2 separate regions of the Homo sapiens genome follow, and region 1 is linked to region 2. The links come from fine-mapping of genetic effects on gene expression. Tissue or cell type: aorta. Region 2 holds a variant in brackets; the other region holds the start of a gene. All regions are shown on one strand. Distances are from middle to middle.

Evidence for each region. PIP is the estimated chance that this variant, and not a neighbour inherited with it, causes the effect.
Region 1: it holds the start of ODAD1, and the variant in region 2 is fine-mapped to the expression of ODAD1 in aorta (GTEx, PIP 0.90).

The regions. Positions count from the first base shown.
Region 1 is chr19:48,317,573-48,325,735 of GRCh38, forward strand. It overlaps ODAD1 (outer dynein arm docking complex subunit 1), which reads right to left and starts at 4,399. Exons shown (of 16, transcript NM_001364171.2): 1 at 4,106-4,399; 2 at 3,200-3,239; 3 at 2,727-2,819; 4 at 1,141-1,240; 5 at 815-1,004. The coding sequence starts at 2,796. It overlaps EMP3 (epithelial membrane protein 3 (MAM blood group)), which reads left to right and starts at 7,980. Exons shown (of 5, transcript NM_001425.3): 1 at 7,980-8,038. It overlaps LOC124904735 (a long non-coding RNA gene), which reads left to right and starts at 3,896. Exons shown (of 2, transcript XR_007067284.1): 1 at 3,896-4,405; 2 at 5,218-5,950. RefSeq lists enhancers at 2,440-2,734, 4,014-4,253, 4,260-4,554, 4,774-4,833, 4,844-4,903 and 1 more and silencers at 3,784-3,903, 4,374-4,663, 6,995-7,226.
Region 2 is chr19:48,286,477-48,294,654 of GRCh38, forward strand. ZNF114 (zinc finger protein 114) reads left to right here. Exons shown (of 6, transcript NM_153608.4): 6 at 1-1,132. The coding sequence ends at 402. Among named protein-coding and RNA genes, the nearest start is that of ZNF114-AS1, 19 kb to the left of the region's middle. RefSeq lists enhancers at 4,661-4,710, 4,731-4,780, 4,898-5,546. The variant G/C (reference allele first, on the strand shown) is at 4,441.

The DNA of each region.
Region 1 (8,163 bases), 31 kb after region 2:
TTAACCACACCAGTCCTGTTTTTGAATGCCTGGGACTGTGCTAAAGCAGCAAACATCTATGTTTCCACTGAACACAACTCTACCAGATGGATGCTTTCAATAGCCCCGATTTTTTTTTTTTTTTGAGACAGAGTCTTGCTCTGTCAACCAGGCTGGAGTGCAGCGGCGCGATCTTGGCTCACTGAAACCTCTGCCCCCCGGGTTTAAACGATTCTCCTGGCCGAGCACAGTGGCTCACGCCTGTAATCTCAGCACTTTGGGAGGCCGAGGTGGGCGGATCACAAGGTCAGGAGATCAAGACCATCTTGGCTAACACAGTAAAATCCTGTCTCTACTAAAAATACAAAAAAAGTAGCCAGGCCTGGTGGTGGGCACCTGTAGTCCCAGCTACTCGGGAAGCTGAGGCAGGAGAATAGCATGAACCTGGGAGGCGAAGCTTGCAGTGAGCCGAGATTGTGCCAATGCACTCCAGCCTGGGCGACAGAGCAAGACTCCGTCTCAAAAACAAAACAAAAGAAAAACTATTCTCCTGCTTCAGCCTCTCGAGTAGCTGGGATTACAGGCATGTGCCACCATGCCTGGCTAATTTTTGTATTTTTTGTAGAGATGGGGTTTCACCACGTTGGCCAGGCTGGTCTTGAACTCCTGACCTCAAGTGATCTGCCCGCCTCAGCCTCCCAATGTGCTGGGATTACAGGCATGAGCCACTGTGCCCGGCCTAATAGCCCCAATTTCACATGAGGAAGCTAAGGCTCAGGGAGGTTACAACACTTGCCCGTAAGCAGGATCCGTAGAACCACCTCTCAAACCCCACCTGCTTGTCCAGGGCCCTGGTCTGCTCCTGCAGCTCCTCGATCTCCGCCTGCACCTGGGCCCGGCCCTTCAGCAGGCGGTCCATGTTCTCCAGCCGCTGACTGTCCCGAAGCCGCTTGACCTGGTTCTGGGCTGCGCTGATCTGCACCTGGAGATCGCCCCGTACCTCCTCCAAGCGCCGGATCTCCTCACTACCCAGGCAGGGAGGTGGAAGAGGGGCCAGTAAGGGGGCAGAACTCAGCATCACTAAAGGCAGGACCCAGGAGTCCAGTCTTCAGCCCCTCTGACCCCCTCCTCCCCAGCTCAGGGCCCAGGCGCCCAGCTCACAGTTGCTTGTTGATGCGCTGGTGGACTTCCTTGCTGTAGGCCCGCCTCTCCCCTTCCATCACTTTGCATTGTCGCTGCAGCCTACTCAGCTCCCAATCCACTGAGAACAGGGCCAGCCAAGGGACTCAGCAGGGATCCTGGCCACCAGCTCCTCCCAACCCAGGACCTAGGAATTCTGCTCCCTTTGGGGTCTCACAAACTGCAACTGAACTGCAGATCCAGCCCCCAACACCCCTCTAGGAATGCACCTCAGTTCCGGGATCCCTCGAGCTTCCTCATCCCTTCATACCCAAAACTGAACTCAGGGTTTTTTTCCCCTAAAACCCACTCCCATCCCACCAGAGGGCACTTCTGGAAGGCCTCTGGGTCTTCTGGGACCTGGGCACACCACCTGGAATTGGGAAGGCTCTTGCTCCCTCCCTCCTTTTCTGCCCCACCATCAGCAGCCCTCAGCCCCATCCTCTTGCCTCCTCCCTCTCTCAACCCATCCCCTGGGCTCAGCCTCATCCTCTCCTACCTGGACCATCACCCCAACCTTTCTCTCAACTTCCAGCCTTCCTGCACAGTCCCAGAGGGTCTCTCTACACCCACAGCCAACCCTACCCCACCCACAGCAGACCCTACCCCTCATAGGCCTCCCATGATGCCCCAGTACCTGCAGGACAAAGTCTCAGCACCTCAGCCTGGGATCCCAGACCCCAAGTGACCTGACCTTACCCACCTCTCCAGTCTTGCCCGTATGCTCCCCATCTCCAAAGGCCCAGTAGTTTTCAATCAGCGGGTGATTCTGCCTTCCAAAAACATTTGGCAATGTCTGGAGACTTATTTTTTTCTAGACAGGGTCTCGCTCTGTCCCCCAGGCTCTAGCGCAGTGGCACAATCTCAGCTCACTGCAGCCTCCACCTCGCAGGCTCAAGTGATCCGCCCACCTCAGCCTCCCGAGTAGCTGGGATTATGGGTGCACGCCATCACACCTGGCTAATTTTATTTTATTTTTGTAGAGATGAGGTCTCACTGTGTTGCTCAGGCTGGTCTTGAACTCCTGGGCTCAAGTGATCCTCCTTCCTCAGCTTCCCAAAGTGCTGGGATTACAGGCATGAGCCAGCATGCTCAGCCTAGAGACATTTGTCATTGTCATGACTTGTGGAGAAGGGAGGGGGCTACTGGTATCCAGTGAGTAGAAGCCATGGACACTGCTTGGCATCCTACGACACACAGGACTGCCCCCACAACAAAGAATTATCCCACCCCAAGAGTCAACAGTACCAAGGTTGAGAAAGCCTACTCTAGCCACATTCTGTCATCTCTGTAGAAACACCCTTCCTTCCTTCTCCCCTTGGCAATTCCTACAGGGAGTTCTGGGCCCCACTCAAACTTCTGCTGCCTGAAGTCTCCAGCCTGCCCCACTGCCCAGGCTTGGCCCACCCACCGTGGTGCCCGCCCCGCCTCCCTTAGGGCGCATGTCTGTTCCCACCAGAGGGCGCTCCTGGACAGACACTCTCCCTCCCTCCCTACAGGACCTGGAACTTGGGAAAGCTGGGGGCTGGAAAAGAATGGGTGAATGATATAAAGAATGAATGAATTACCCATTCCCTCCAGAAATGCCTCGCTTCCCTCCTCGGAGCGGGCGCTCCCTGCCAAGCGTCCCAAAGGCATCCTGGCCAAACAGGGTGGGGCTCCTGTAGGGATGGACATATAAGACCCTTCAGACAGCAGGCGGGCCAGGGCCCAGAGAGGGTGGACAATGAACTGCGAGGGACTGGGAATTGAAAGGGGGTGACCCTAGAACCACGCTGGCCTCATTCCTCCAAGAGGGGTTGGAGGGGGACCTCTCTCAGGCCTCTCCCACACCTCTCCAGCCCTCCCACCTCTCACACTCTGGGTCTTGCGTCTAGGCTCCGATTCTGGCGCGGGTTTGGCAGGGGACAGGCCTCCTGGGCTCTCAGGATATCTGAGGCCAGGCTGTTTGGTCGCAGGAGAGGGGGAAACCCCGGCCTGCTGTAGTGGGGGTTGGGCAGGGTCGGGGGAGTCCTGGGCCCTACCTGCCGACGGGCCTGACCTGTTCTTGGTGCTCCAAGTTCAGTGTTGTGGTCTGGTTACTGGGGAGATAAGGGACCAATGAGGACTGAGGACAGCGGCCAGGGAGGGACTGAGGCCGCGGGAGAAACTATGGGAGGAGGGGCGGAGAAGGATGCGAGGCGTAGACCTGCAGGGTTCCCACGGACTGAGAACTGATGGGCAAGGCCAGGCGCGGTGGCTCACGCCTGCAATCCCAGCATTTTGGGAGGCCGAGGCGGGCGCATCACTTGAGGTCACGAGTTCGAGACCAACCTGGCCAACATGGTGAAACCCCGTCTCTACTAAAAGTACAAAAAATTAGCCGGACATGGCGGCTCGTGCCTGTAATCCCAGCTACTCAGGAGGCTGGGGCAGGAGAATCGCTTGAACCCGGGAGGCGGAGGTTGCAGTGAGCCGAGATCCCGCCACTGCACTCCAGCCTGGGCGACAGAGCGAGACTCCGTCTCAAAAAACAAACAAACAAACAAACAAAACTGATGGGCGGCGAGGTCCTGAAAGGGGCGGAGCCGGGAGGGCCTGTGGAGCGGTGCTGCGGAGCCCTGAGAGGTGCACGGCTGTGAGGCCTGAGAGGGGCGTGCCGTAGGGAGCTGTGATGGGCGGGGCTGAGACCTGTGAGGAGAGTGAGTGGGAAGAACTTCGAGGGGCGGGGCTTCGGGGCCGGCGAGGGGAGGGGCACGGACACCAGTACAGGACGGGGCTTCGCAGACAGCGAGCGGAGGGGCTTCCCCGTAAGGGGCGGGCTTCGAGGGTCGCGTTTGGAAGGCCTTACGAGGGGCCCGGTGGAAGGGCGGTGAAGGGCGGGCTAATCGGGAGGCGCTCAGGCCTTGAAGGCCTGCGGGAGGTCGAAATGGTCCTGGGGAGGTCGAGGCTGAGGTCTCACTAGTACCGCGGGCCTGGAAGCGGCGGGAGTTGAAAGAGCCTGCGGTGACCTGTATGGAAGCCCTCGAAGCCAGGCCGAGGTCCTACAAGACGGAGCCCGAGAGGTGCCGGTCTTAAGCTGACTGTGACCACGTTAAATTAAGGATTCATAGGAAGGAAGGCGGTGTCGAAGCCGGGAGTTGCGCGGAGAAGGAGCGCTCAACACAGCCTCAGCGGTTCACTACGCAAGCGCGACCAACGGCTTCCCGGGAAGCAGCCAAAAACGCTTGGCCGCCTACCACGTCCGCGCGCTGGAGGGCGGAAGTGGGTGAGACCTCGGGCACTCCATACCGCCCCCCGGTTTCTGGCCACGCCCCCTCTGGTTACACCCACTCGCTCTGTAAGGCACGCCCCCTCCGCGGCGGCGGCTGCTGCCCACGTGGGCCTCCCCGGGCGGGCGGGCAGTGGGCGCCTCTCCCTGCAGGCTGGGTGTGCCCGAAGCCTGCGGTTTCCTGTGGGAGGAAGCGGCCTGCGTACGCTCAGCTCAGCTCATAATCTCGGAGGCCCAGGATGGGGAGATCCCGCCGCCACCCTCAGATCCTTTGATTCTTCCCCTTCTACATAGCCATAGTGCGGGGACCCCCCTAATATCCCCAGGGTACCCAAGCCTGGCGCCGATCCCACTCAGGGAACTTGATTCTGAGTCCTAGACTCGTGTTTTTCACCTCCCCGGCTCAAGTTTCCATCTTCCTAGCCCCTGGCTCCCCCTAGTCCTCTCAAGAAAGTGGAGCCCTCTTTTCCTGCTCCCCAAGAGGAACGTATGTCTCCCCAGCCCCTAATTTTTCCTTCAGTGACCCAGACTTTGCAACTTCCTTAGGGATCTGAGTGCGGACCCCAGTTTCTGTCTCTCAGGCACTTAAGTTTGAGACTACTTATTCTCCCCCAGGGACCCTCATTTTGGATTCCCAACTTTAGCCTTGAGACCCAATGGACCCAAGAATTTGCCCCTTCCCCAACTCCTAGAGATCCTGAATCAGGGTCCCCCAGTACTGACTCCACTCAGAGCCCCAATGCCTGATATGACTAGCACTACCCTAAGAACTGCCCTATAATGTATTTACTATTATCTCTATTTTTCAGATGAAGAGACTGAGGCATAGAGAAGTTATTAGTAACTTGCCAAAAATTACACAGCCATTGAGTAAAACAGCTTGGATTTTGAGTCCAACCAGTGTGGCTCTAGAGTCTGTGCTATACTGGTATTCCAGCTTCCAGGTCTTGGGGTACCCAGCCAAGCACTGAACTGTCCATCCCTCACCCCCTCAGGGAGCCCGAATCACCAACAGCTATCCCAAACCCAGCTCTGGCCCATCAGATACCCAGACATCCCATCATCCAGTTCCCTTCCCTGGATCCAGGATTTGAATTCCCCTGCTCTCAATTTATCAGAGTTCTGGGCACCTGGTCCCCTCCCAAGAGACTCGTGTACATAGTAGTCATCACCCCGACCCTAATTTAATATCCCCAAAATTAATAATAATAGTTAACAGTAAACCTTTGGGGCCAGGCACAGTGTCTTACGCCTGTAATCCCATCATTTTGGGAGGCCAAGGCAGGCAGATCACTGGAGGTCAGGAGTTCGAGGCCAGCCTGGCCAACATGGAGAAACCCCCGTCTCTACTAAAAATACAAAAATTGGCTGGGCGTGGTGGCGGGCACCTGTAATCCCAGCTACTCAGGAGGCTGAGGCAGGAGAATCGCTTGAACCGGGAGGTGGAGGTTGCAGTGAGCTGAGATCATGCCACTGCACTCCAGCCTGGATGACAGAGCAAGACTCCATCTCAAAAAAAAAATAAAAATCTTTGGTACTACACTCTGTTAAAACCTAATGGCTTTCCACTGCACTTAGAATGAAATCCAAGCCCCTCCCCTAGTCTTCAAGGGCACCCTTTGATTTCCCTTCTCACCACTCCCTCTGTCTCCCTGTGCTCCAGCCACACTGGCCCTTCTGTCTGCTCCCTAAACAACCTGAGCTTGTTCTCAAAAGCTTTAAGAGCTTTTGCACTTCCTCTCCCCCCGACGCCCCCCCACCACTCCCCAACCCCAGCGTTCAAATGACTCCTGTCTTCAGCTCAAATGTTACCTCCTCCAAGAGGCCTTCCCTGATTTTCCTGTTTCAAGTAGTCTTCCCTGCACTCTGTCATTATCTCCATCACTCTGTTTGATTTATTATTGTATTTATTTTTCTTTTCTTCTTTTATTTTTTTTTTTCTTTAAGATGGAGTCTTGCTCTGTCACCCAGGATGGAGTGCAGTAGCGTGATTTCAGCTTACTGCAACCTCCGCCTCCCGGGTTCAAGCAATTCTCCTGTCTCAGCCTCCTGAGTAGCTGGGTTACAGGCGCCCACTACCATGCCTGGCTAATTTTTGTATTTTTAGTAGAGACAGGGTTTCACCATGTTGGCCAGGCTGGTCTTGAACTCTCGACCTCAGGTGATCCTCCAGCCTTGGCCTCCCAAAGTGCTGAGATTACAGGCATGAGCCACCACGTCCAGCCTATTGTATTTATTTTTCAAGTCACTTATCCTTATCTGAGATTTATCTTCATCATTGATGTTTTCTCTTGTCTGTCTTCCTCTACTAGAATACAAGCTCCATAATACCAGCAGGGCTCATGTCTGTTTTCATTATTAACTCCCAGATCAGAGTACATGTTCAATAAATGTTTGATGAAGGAAGGAACAGGTTAGGTGTGTGAGTGTGCCAGTATTACCTTATTCATTCAGCATAAGTATCAGAATTATTATTATCAGTATTAGTATTTTGTCAGCATTATTATACTCTCAACATAGACTAAGATACTGGAGCCCAGGTGGGTGAAATAATTGGCTCAAGGTCACTGAACCAGGAAATGATGGCGCTGGGATTCTTAGCTTCCGCTTCCTCCCCGCTTCCAGAGTTTCACAAGGTTTTTTTTTTTGTTTGTTTGTTTTTTGTTTTGTTTTGTTTTTTTTTTGCGACAGAATCTCACTTTGTCCCCCAGGTTGGAAGGCAGTGGTGCAAACTCAACTCACTGCAGCCTCCACCTCTCGCGTTCAAGCGATTCTCATGGCTCAGCCTCCCAAGTAGCTGGGATTACAGTCGCCCGCCACCACGCCCGGCTAATTTTTGTATTTTTGATAGAGACGGGTTTCCACCATGTTGGCCAGGCTGGTCTCGAACTCCTGACCTCAGATGATCTGCCCGTCTCGGCCTCCCAAAGTGCTGGGATTACAGGCGTGAGCCACAACGCCCTGCCGAGTTTCACAAATTTCATCTCCCATCCTCTGACCCCCCACCACGGGGCCAACTTCACCAGCCCAATCTCAAGTCCATGCCACAGAAATCTGGCCTCTTTTCCCAGACTCCTATCCAGCTCCAAGCTCCATCAGGGAAAGCAGACATCCGGCCCCAGGGCAAGACCTCAAAACTCAAGGGTCCTGAGAATCGGGCCCTCCCACCCCTGACGCTTGCCCCCCCCAAGAACCCCATTCCAAGAGTTTCTCATCTCAACCCTGGGAGGGAGCCCCAGATGATGTCTGTCTGGAGGGATTGGGTGGGGGCCCAAAGAAAGAGGAACCGGAGTGCCTGGGCCCTCCCACTGGCAGCCGACCTCAGCTGGGTGCGGTGAGGGTGGGTTTATAAAAGGGTCAGTATATATTGAGAGGAGGAGAGAAAGAGAAACGGGAGCAAGAGAGAAGGAGGCCCAGACAGTGAGGGCAGGAGGGAGAGAAGAGACGCAGAAGGAGAGCGAGCGAGAGAGAAAGGGTTCTGGATTGGAGGGGAGAGCAAGGGAGGGAGGAAGGCGGTGAGAGAGGCGGGGGCCTCGGGAGGGTGAAAGGAGGGAGGAGAAGGGCGGGGCACGGAGGCCCGAGCGAGGGACAAGACTCCGACTCCAGCTCTGACTTTTTTCGCGGCTCTCGGTAAGTTTCCAGTCCGTTATTCAGGGCTGGGACTTCTTAATTTACTTGGGAATGTAGCAGTTTGGGAAGGACACCCCCAGGCTGGGAGAGACGTCCCTGACTCTTGGAAATCCTTTTAATTTAAT
Region 2 (8,178 bases):
TCTGCCAACGCTCCAAATTCCGGTTCACACAAGAGTCATTGCACTGGAGAGAAAACCCATAAATGCCCCGAATGTGGGAGAGCCTTTTTTTATCAGTCATTCCTTATGAGACATATGAAAATTCACACTGGAGAGAAACCGTATGAATGTGGGAAATGTGGGAAAGCCTTTAGATATTCCTTACACCTTAATAAACATTTAAGAAAGCATGTTGTGCAGAAGAAGCCCTACGAATGTGAAGAATGTGGGAAAGTCATTCGGGAGTCCTCAAAATATACACATATAAGGAGCCACACTGGAGAGAAACCCTATAAATGTAAGACATGTGGAAAAGACTTTGCAAAGTCGTCAGGACTTAAAAAACATCTTAAGACTCACAAAGATGAGAAGCCCTGTGAATGAAAGGAAGGTGGAAAATTTTTCATTAATTTTCTGACTGTACCAAACATGTGAGGAGGACATATTGGAAGGGAGCTCAAGGGGTTAGCATGAGTGAGAACATCTTCCCTGAACTCTCGTATCTTACAGAAATGTGAAAAAAAACCCTGTGAAGGTAAAGTCTACAGAAAGCCTTTCATCTTCATTCATCTTGAGTAGACATTTGTTCTCACCCTGGAGAGAAACTGCGAATCTAAAAGGAATATGACAAAGCCTTCAGCGTGGTCTCAAATTCATGGTTCATACAAGAACTCACACTGCAGAGACTCCTTACGGAAATAAAAAATGTAGGAAAGACCTGCCGGCCGCGGTGGCTCATGCCTGTAATCCCAGCACTTTGGGAGGCCGAGGCGGGCGGATCACGAGGTCAGGAGATCAAGACCATCCTGGCTAACACGGTGATACCCCGTCTCTACTAAAAATACAAAAAAAATTAGCCAGGCGTGGTGGCAGGTGCCTGTAGTCCCAGCTACTTGGGAGGCTGAGGTAGGAGAATGGTGTAAACCTGGGAGGTGGAGCTTGCAGTGAGCCGAGATGGAGCCACTGCACTCCAGCCTGGGGGAAAGAGCGAGACTCCGTCTCAAAAAAAAAAAAAAGTAGGAAAGACCTCTTTAAACACTTACCACTCATGTTGCATGTGAATCCACATCCTGAAGGGAGGCTACAACTGGAATAAAAATAAGAAAGCTTTCAAGGCCTGGTGCAGTGACTCACACCTGTAATCCTAGCACTTTGGGAGTCCAAGGTGGGGGATTGCTTGAGTCCAGGAGTTTGAGACCAGCCTGGGCAACATGGAGAAACCCCATCTCTACAAAAAAAAAAAAAAAAATGCAAAAATTAACCAGGAGTGGTAGCACATGCCTGTAGTCCCAGCTACCTGGGGAGCTGAGGCAGGAGGATCGCTTGAGCCTGGGAGCTTGAGGCAGCAGTGAGCTGTGTTTGCACCACTGCACTCCACCCTGGGTGACAAAGTGACACCCTGTCTCAAAAAAAAAAAGAAAGCTTTCAGGTCCAGCCTTTCACTTAGGCACAATGAGCGCACAGTAGGACTGAAACACTGTAAATGTTCATGATTTTCCAGTTTTTCCTTTCTAAAAAAAAAAATGCTACAAGATGAAGGATATCCCTCTTTGCACACTCCCAGCTCTGCCACATAAATGTTGGTATATAGCAGGTTCATTATAACTCACATACACGTGGTCTCATTTTCAATGTGAAGCCTTCTTTGAGCCTCATTCAATTTAGACTTGGGATTCATATACTCCATGATACCATTTTTGTCTTATTGGTCACTGTTCAACTGCATTATGGTCAGAGTATGTGGTCTTTCTGGTACCAACTTGGGTTACTTGTTATGACTTTGTCAGTCTAATGTGCCCTATTCTGTCAACTTCCCTGCCACCTCCATTCTTCTCATCTTCTTTACTAAGGGCACATAGATTCACTTTCCACAATGAGCACTATTTAATGTCTTATTTTTATTTTTATTTTATTTATGTATGTATTTATTTTGAGACAGAGTCTTGCTCTGTCACCCAGGCTGGAGAGCAGTGGGGCAATCTCGACTTACTGCAACCTCTGCCTCCTGGGCTCAAGTGATTCTCCTGCCTCACCCTCCCGAGTAGCTGGGATTACAGACACCCACCACCACGCCCAGCTAATTTTTCTATTTTTAGTAGAGACGAGATTTCACCACGCTGGCCAGGCTGGTCTCAAACTCCTGACCTCAAGTGACCTGCCTGCCTTGGCCTCCCAAAGTGCTGGGATTACAGGCATAAGCCACTGTGCCCGGCCTCTTTTCAATCTTTTAAAAGTTGGGAAACGGCCGGGCATGTTGGCTCATGCCTGTCACCCCAGCACTTTGGGAGGCCAAGGTGGGCGGATCGCCTGAGGTGAGGAGTTCGAGACCAGCCTGACCAACATGGAGAAACCCCATCTCTACTAAAAATATAAAATTAGCCAGGTGTGGTGGCTCACGCCTGTAATCCCAACTACTCAGGAGGCTGAGGCAGGAGAATTGCTTGCATCTGGGAGGCGGAGGTTGCGGTGAGCCGAGATTGTGCCATTGCACTCCAGCCTGGGCAACAAGAGTGAAACTTATCTCAAAAAAAGTAAAAATAAAAATAATAAAAAATAAAAGTTGGGAAATATGACTACCTGAAAATGCATGAAAATGTACATATACATTTTTTTTTTCGAGATGGAGTTTTGTTCTTGTTGCCCAAGCTGGAGTGCAGTGGCGTGATCTCCGCTTACTGCAACCTCTGCCTCCCAGGTTCAAGTGATTCTCCTGCCTCAGCCTCCTGAGTAGCTGAGATTACAGGCACCTGCCACCACGACATTTCAAAGTTAATAAAGTGATCACCCTTATACCCACCATCCAAGCCCGTAAACAGCTCATCATTAAACACCAGGCAATTCACGTCTGTGCCTCACAGACGACATCTCCAGCCCCAAGAGGAAACCGCCATGGTTCATTTTGTATCATTCGCCCCCCTCGCTCATCTTTATGTTTGCAGCTATGCAGAAATCCCCAAATACCCTGTTTTCTAGTTTCGATGATGTTTATGCTGCGTATGATGGCATGGCATAGAATATTTCTTTGTGCCTTGCTTCTTTCAGGAAAAGAAAAGCTAAGCAGGTAGGGTGCAGGTGGCATTCATTCTTTCTTAGTTATATTCATTCCAGAGACCCTGGATCTGTATCTCACTTTAGAGATTATAAACATGCTGCTAACACCAATTTTGCAAAGCCCTCCCAATGAGCATTTTATGAAAGTCATTCTTGGCCGGGCGTGGTGGCTCACGCCTGTAATCCCAGCACTTTGGGAGGCCGAGGCAGGTGGATCACTTGAGGTCAGGGTTCAAGACCAGCCTGGCCAATGTGGTGAAACCCCGTCTCTACTAAAAATACAAAAATTAGTCAGGCATGGTGGCATGCACCTGTAGTCCCAGCTACTCAGGAGGCTGAGGCAGGAGAATTATTTGAGCCCAAGAGGCGGAGGTTGCAGTGAGCCGAGATCGTGCCACTGCACTCCAGCCTGGGCAACAGACAGAGTGAGACTCTGTCTCAAAAAAAAAAAAAATAGGCCGGGCGCGGTGGCTCATGCCTGTAATCCCAGCACTTTGGGAGGCCGGGGTGGGTGGATCACTTGAGGTCAGGAGTTCGGGACCAGCCTGGCCAACATGGCGAAACCCCATCTCTACTAAAAATACAAAACTTAGCCAGGCATGGTGCAGACATCTGTAATCCCAGCTACTTGGGAGGCTGAGGCAGGAGAATCACTTGAACAAGGGAGGCAGCGGTTGCAGTGAGCTGAGACTGCGCCACTGCACTCCCGTCTGGGCGACGGAGCGAGATTTCGTCTCCAAAAAAAAAGGAAAAGAAAAGAGAAACGCCACTGGTAAGAGCAGAGGTCCTCCTAGGCGCGCATTCTGCATGGCCCCAGCACTGTTAAGTTCAGCTTTCAGTGTTTGGGGAAGACCTGCAGGTCAGGGACCCCCACTGTGGCTGAGGGGGCTCAAGCTTGGCCCTTTCTCCCGGACCCCTGCTGCCTGCGTTTCCCAGCAATCTGCTGCTTTATCCTAGAATCTGGGTGACTCATGGCCCTCCCCATCCTGGAAGGAATGAAGAGGAGGAGGGGAGGCTGCTATGCCAGGACAGTCCCAGACCTTGCCAAGGGGCCTGGGTCCACTCCCACCCCCAGGGAGCGCTGTGCGGAGGAAAAGGACCATGGCTGAAATCAGAATCCCTGGATTCAACCGGGGGTGGAGGGGGCCGGGGCGGGAGGGGGGAAACATCTGTAGCTGAGGGAACACCCCTCCCGCCTCCAGTCGCTGAGGCTGAACTTAGCCGACTTTGGGGATTCCCCACCCTCTACCCCCAACTGGTCCTCAATTCTCACAGATGTAAACTGAGAATTTTCAACAATCGTTTTGGCAAACATACGCCAGGCCCCCTTCTGAGCGCTTTGCACCTATTAACTCATGCAACGCCTGCAAC[G/C]CTATGAAGTGGCTGCTGTTATCACTACCATTTTACAGTGGGGGGAACTGAGGCACAGCGAGGCCAAGCACGATGCCCAAGATCACACAGCCAGCAGGTGGCCGGGAGGGGCTCGACCCCGTGCTGTCAGGCACCAGAGACTCGGCTCTTCAGCCCCAGGCCAGAGCCTCCCTGCACTGACGGGGTCGCGAATTCGGGCAGGAGGGTTCGTGTGTGTCCTCACCTCTGGGACGCGAGCTCCGGGGACGGGGGACCTCGTCTGGCGTGGGAGGCATTTAGTGAGCGCCGTGGACTGAAGCCGGGACGGTCTTAGGAGAACCACTTCCCTTCTTGGCCGCCTGAAACCCCCTACAGGGTTCTGCTTCTGGAACTGCATTCGAGGTCAGAGTTTCTAGTACGAGTAAAGCGGATCCTCGGGAAGAGACCCGACCAGAAGGAAATCGCCGTCTTGGAAGATCTAAGTCCGGGATGGAACAAAACCCACTCCGGGCGGGGGGAGCGCGCCACCTGGCGGCGGATCCTGCTAAGGCAGCGCCGCCCGGAGACCAGAAACGTTGGATTTGGGCAGTGGGCCGAGGTGGTTGGAATTGGCGAATGGGCAGTTGTCTGAAAATCATTGTGTGAAACTAAGGACTGTCTACCAGTGGCTTCCAAAATTCTGACGCACAGTAAGAAATCATTTTGCGTCAGCATTTTTTTTTTTTTTTTTTTGAGACAAGGTCTTGCTCTGTTGCCCAGGTTGGAATGCAGTGGCACGATCTCGGCTCACTGCAAACTCCACTTCCAGGGTTCAAGCGATTCTCCTGCCTCAGCCTCCTGAGTAGCTGAGATTACAGGCGCCCGTCACCGCGCCTGGCTAATTTTTTATTTTTAGTAGAGATGGGGTTTTACAATGTTAGCCAGGCTGGTCTCGAATTCCTGGCCTCAAGTGATCTGCCCGCCTCGGCCTCCCAAAGTGCTGGGATTGCAGGCATGAGCCACCGTGCCTGGCCGCATCAGCATACTTTTACAAAAGAATACCACCCTCTATAGCCAACAACAATGGATTGTATACTTCAAAATAGCTAGAACATTTTGCATGTTTCACCGCAAAGAAATGGCAAGCATCTGGGATGATGGATTTGCTAATAACCTTGATTTGATCACTGCACAATTTATATATGTATCAAAACATCACGCCGCATCCTATAAATATGTACAATTAAAAACAAAATTTAGGCCGGCTGCAGTGGCTCATGCCTGTAATCCCAGCACTTTGGGAGGCCGAGGTGGGTGGATCACCAGGTCAGGAGTCCCAGACCAGTCTGGCCAAGATGGTGAAACCCCATCTCTACTTAAAAAAAAAAAAAAAAAAAAATTTGCTAGGTATGGTGGCGGGCACCTGTAATCCCAGCTACTAGGGAGGCTGAGGCAAAGAACTACTTTAACCCGGGAGGCAGAGGTTACAGTGAGCCGAGATCGCGCCACTGCACTCCAGCCTGGGTGACAGGGCGAGACTCCGTCTCAAAAAAAAGAAAATTTTAGTTTTAAAAATACCACCCTGTATTACACGGCCCTGTATTACACGATGCTTTATATTCCACTCTATTCCTTTTTTTTTTTTGAGACAGAGTGTCACTCTATCACCCAGGCATGATCTCGGCTCACTGCAACCTCTGTCCCCCAGGTTCAAGCAATCCTCCTGCCTCAGCCTCCCTCAGCCTCCTGAGTAGCTGGGATTACAGGCTCCCGCCATCATGCCCAGCTAATTTTTGCATTTTTAGTAAAGACGGGGTTTCACCATGTTGGCCAGGCTGGTCTCGAACTCCTGTCCTCAGGTGATCCGCCTGCCTCAGCCCCCCAAGGTGCTGTGATTACAGGCATGAGCCACCAGGCCCGGCCTATTCCTATTTTTAAATGCTGGTCAGGTCACCTTAAAATGGTTTCCTGACTCTCTAAGGGTCTGGGATAGGGTTTTCCACTGTTCTAGATTATCCCCATGTTTTTTCACTTGACAGAGATTATGATGAGGAACCGGTTACACCCACGCTACCTCCCAGTGAGCCTTCCCCACCACACAAAGCTGCCTCCAGGATTCGCTGCCAGCTCTGATGTCAGGATGAGTAACAGCTCAGGATGCTGAAGACACTGGCCCAAGACCACACAGCCTGGATGTGGCAGTGCCTGTTTCTGCCTCACTCCTGGAGGAGGAAAATGATTAAATACCCGTAATTTCACTGCTATTGAGTACAATTTAATTCATCCTTCCTCCACTTTGGCTGATAAGATTGAGCTGCACTCACCTGCTGTTCTCTTAGGCTGTAGCATAAGGCATTCCAGAGGTCAAACTTTAAAATGTCTTTTTCACTTTGGGAGGCCAAGGCGGGAGGATCACTGGAGGCCAGGAGTTCGAGACCAGCCTGGCCAACATGGTGAAACCTCCATCTCTACAAAAAATACAAAAATTAGCCGGGCGTGGTGGCACACATCTGTAGTCCCAGCTGCTCAGGAGGCTGAGGCATGAGAATCACTTGAACCTGGGAGGTGGAGGCTGGAGTGAGCCAAGATTGCACCACTGCACTCCAGCCTGGGCAACAGAGCAAGACCCTGTCTCAAAAAAATAAAAAATCAAAAATCTAGGTTGAATTCTCAGGTGTCTCTAAAGTGGCCTTCGATGTATTCTGCGCTGGGTGCTGCAGGGTTGACCATCTAAAAGTGGCGAGCCCAGCCCCAGTCCAGGGGAAGGTAGAGGAAGTGAACCTGCTCATTGTAGGACTAGGACCCTTGAGGTGACAGAGAGCTGTGGTTAGCCTGAGTCCATCGCACTGTGGTGGTCTATGAGGCCGCTTTGCAGGGGCAGCAAATCAGAAGGCTCGGTCTGCTGTGCTTACTCTGCTATCTTTGGAAGGAAAGAGGAGGAAATCGCTCCGAAATGGGAGATAGGGCTGGTGGTCACGACTCAGCTCCACACCAAGATGAGACTTCCTGGGCCCCCAGGGAGGAAGAATAGCAGTTCCACTGCCAGGAGCCACGCCTCAGAGGAGCTGCCTTTCCACCTCCCTCCTGAAATGCCATTTTCAAATTTCTCCTTTACTCTTCCATCCCCAGAACCTAGTACAATATATGGCACATAGTACATGCTCAATAAATATTTATCAAATTAATGAGAAAAGATATGTGGATGTCCCCTCCTGTGCAGCTGTAAGGGGAGAAATAGAGTTCTTTTTTTTTTTTTTTAACTTTCCTACACCAGTTTTATTTAAAACACAAAAATAAGTATTTCTCTTTCTGTAAGGAAAAATGGCTCAAATATTGCTGAACACAGGCCAGACTCAGTGGCTCACGCCTGTATTCCCAGCACTTTGGGAGGTCGAGGTAGGAGCACACTTGAGGTCAGGGGTTCGAGACCAGCCTGGCCAACACGGTGAAACCCCCATCTCAAATACAAAAAAAAAAAATTAGCCAGGCATGGTGGCAGGTGCCTGTAATCCCAGCTACTTGGGAGGCTGAGGCAGGAGAACTGCTTGAACCCAGGAGGCGGAGATTGCAGTGAGCTGAGATTGTGCCACTGCACTCCAGCCTGGGCGACAGAGCGAGACTCCGTCTCAAAAATAAATAAATAAATAAATAAATAGAAAGAAAACACTACACTCCTTTCCATCTTTATCGCTGTCCTGCTAATAGTCACATGTAGTTCTGAGCATTTACTACTTGCCAGGTACTGTTCTGAGGCTTTCTGTGTATCAGTTCATTTTATTC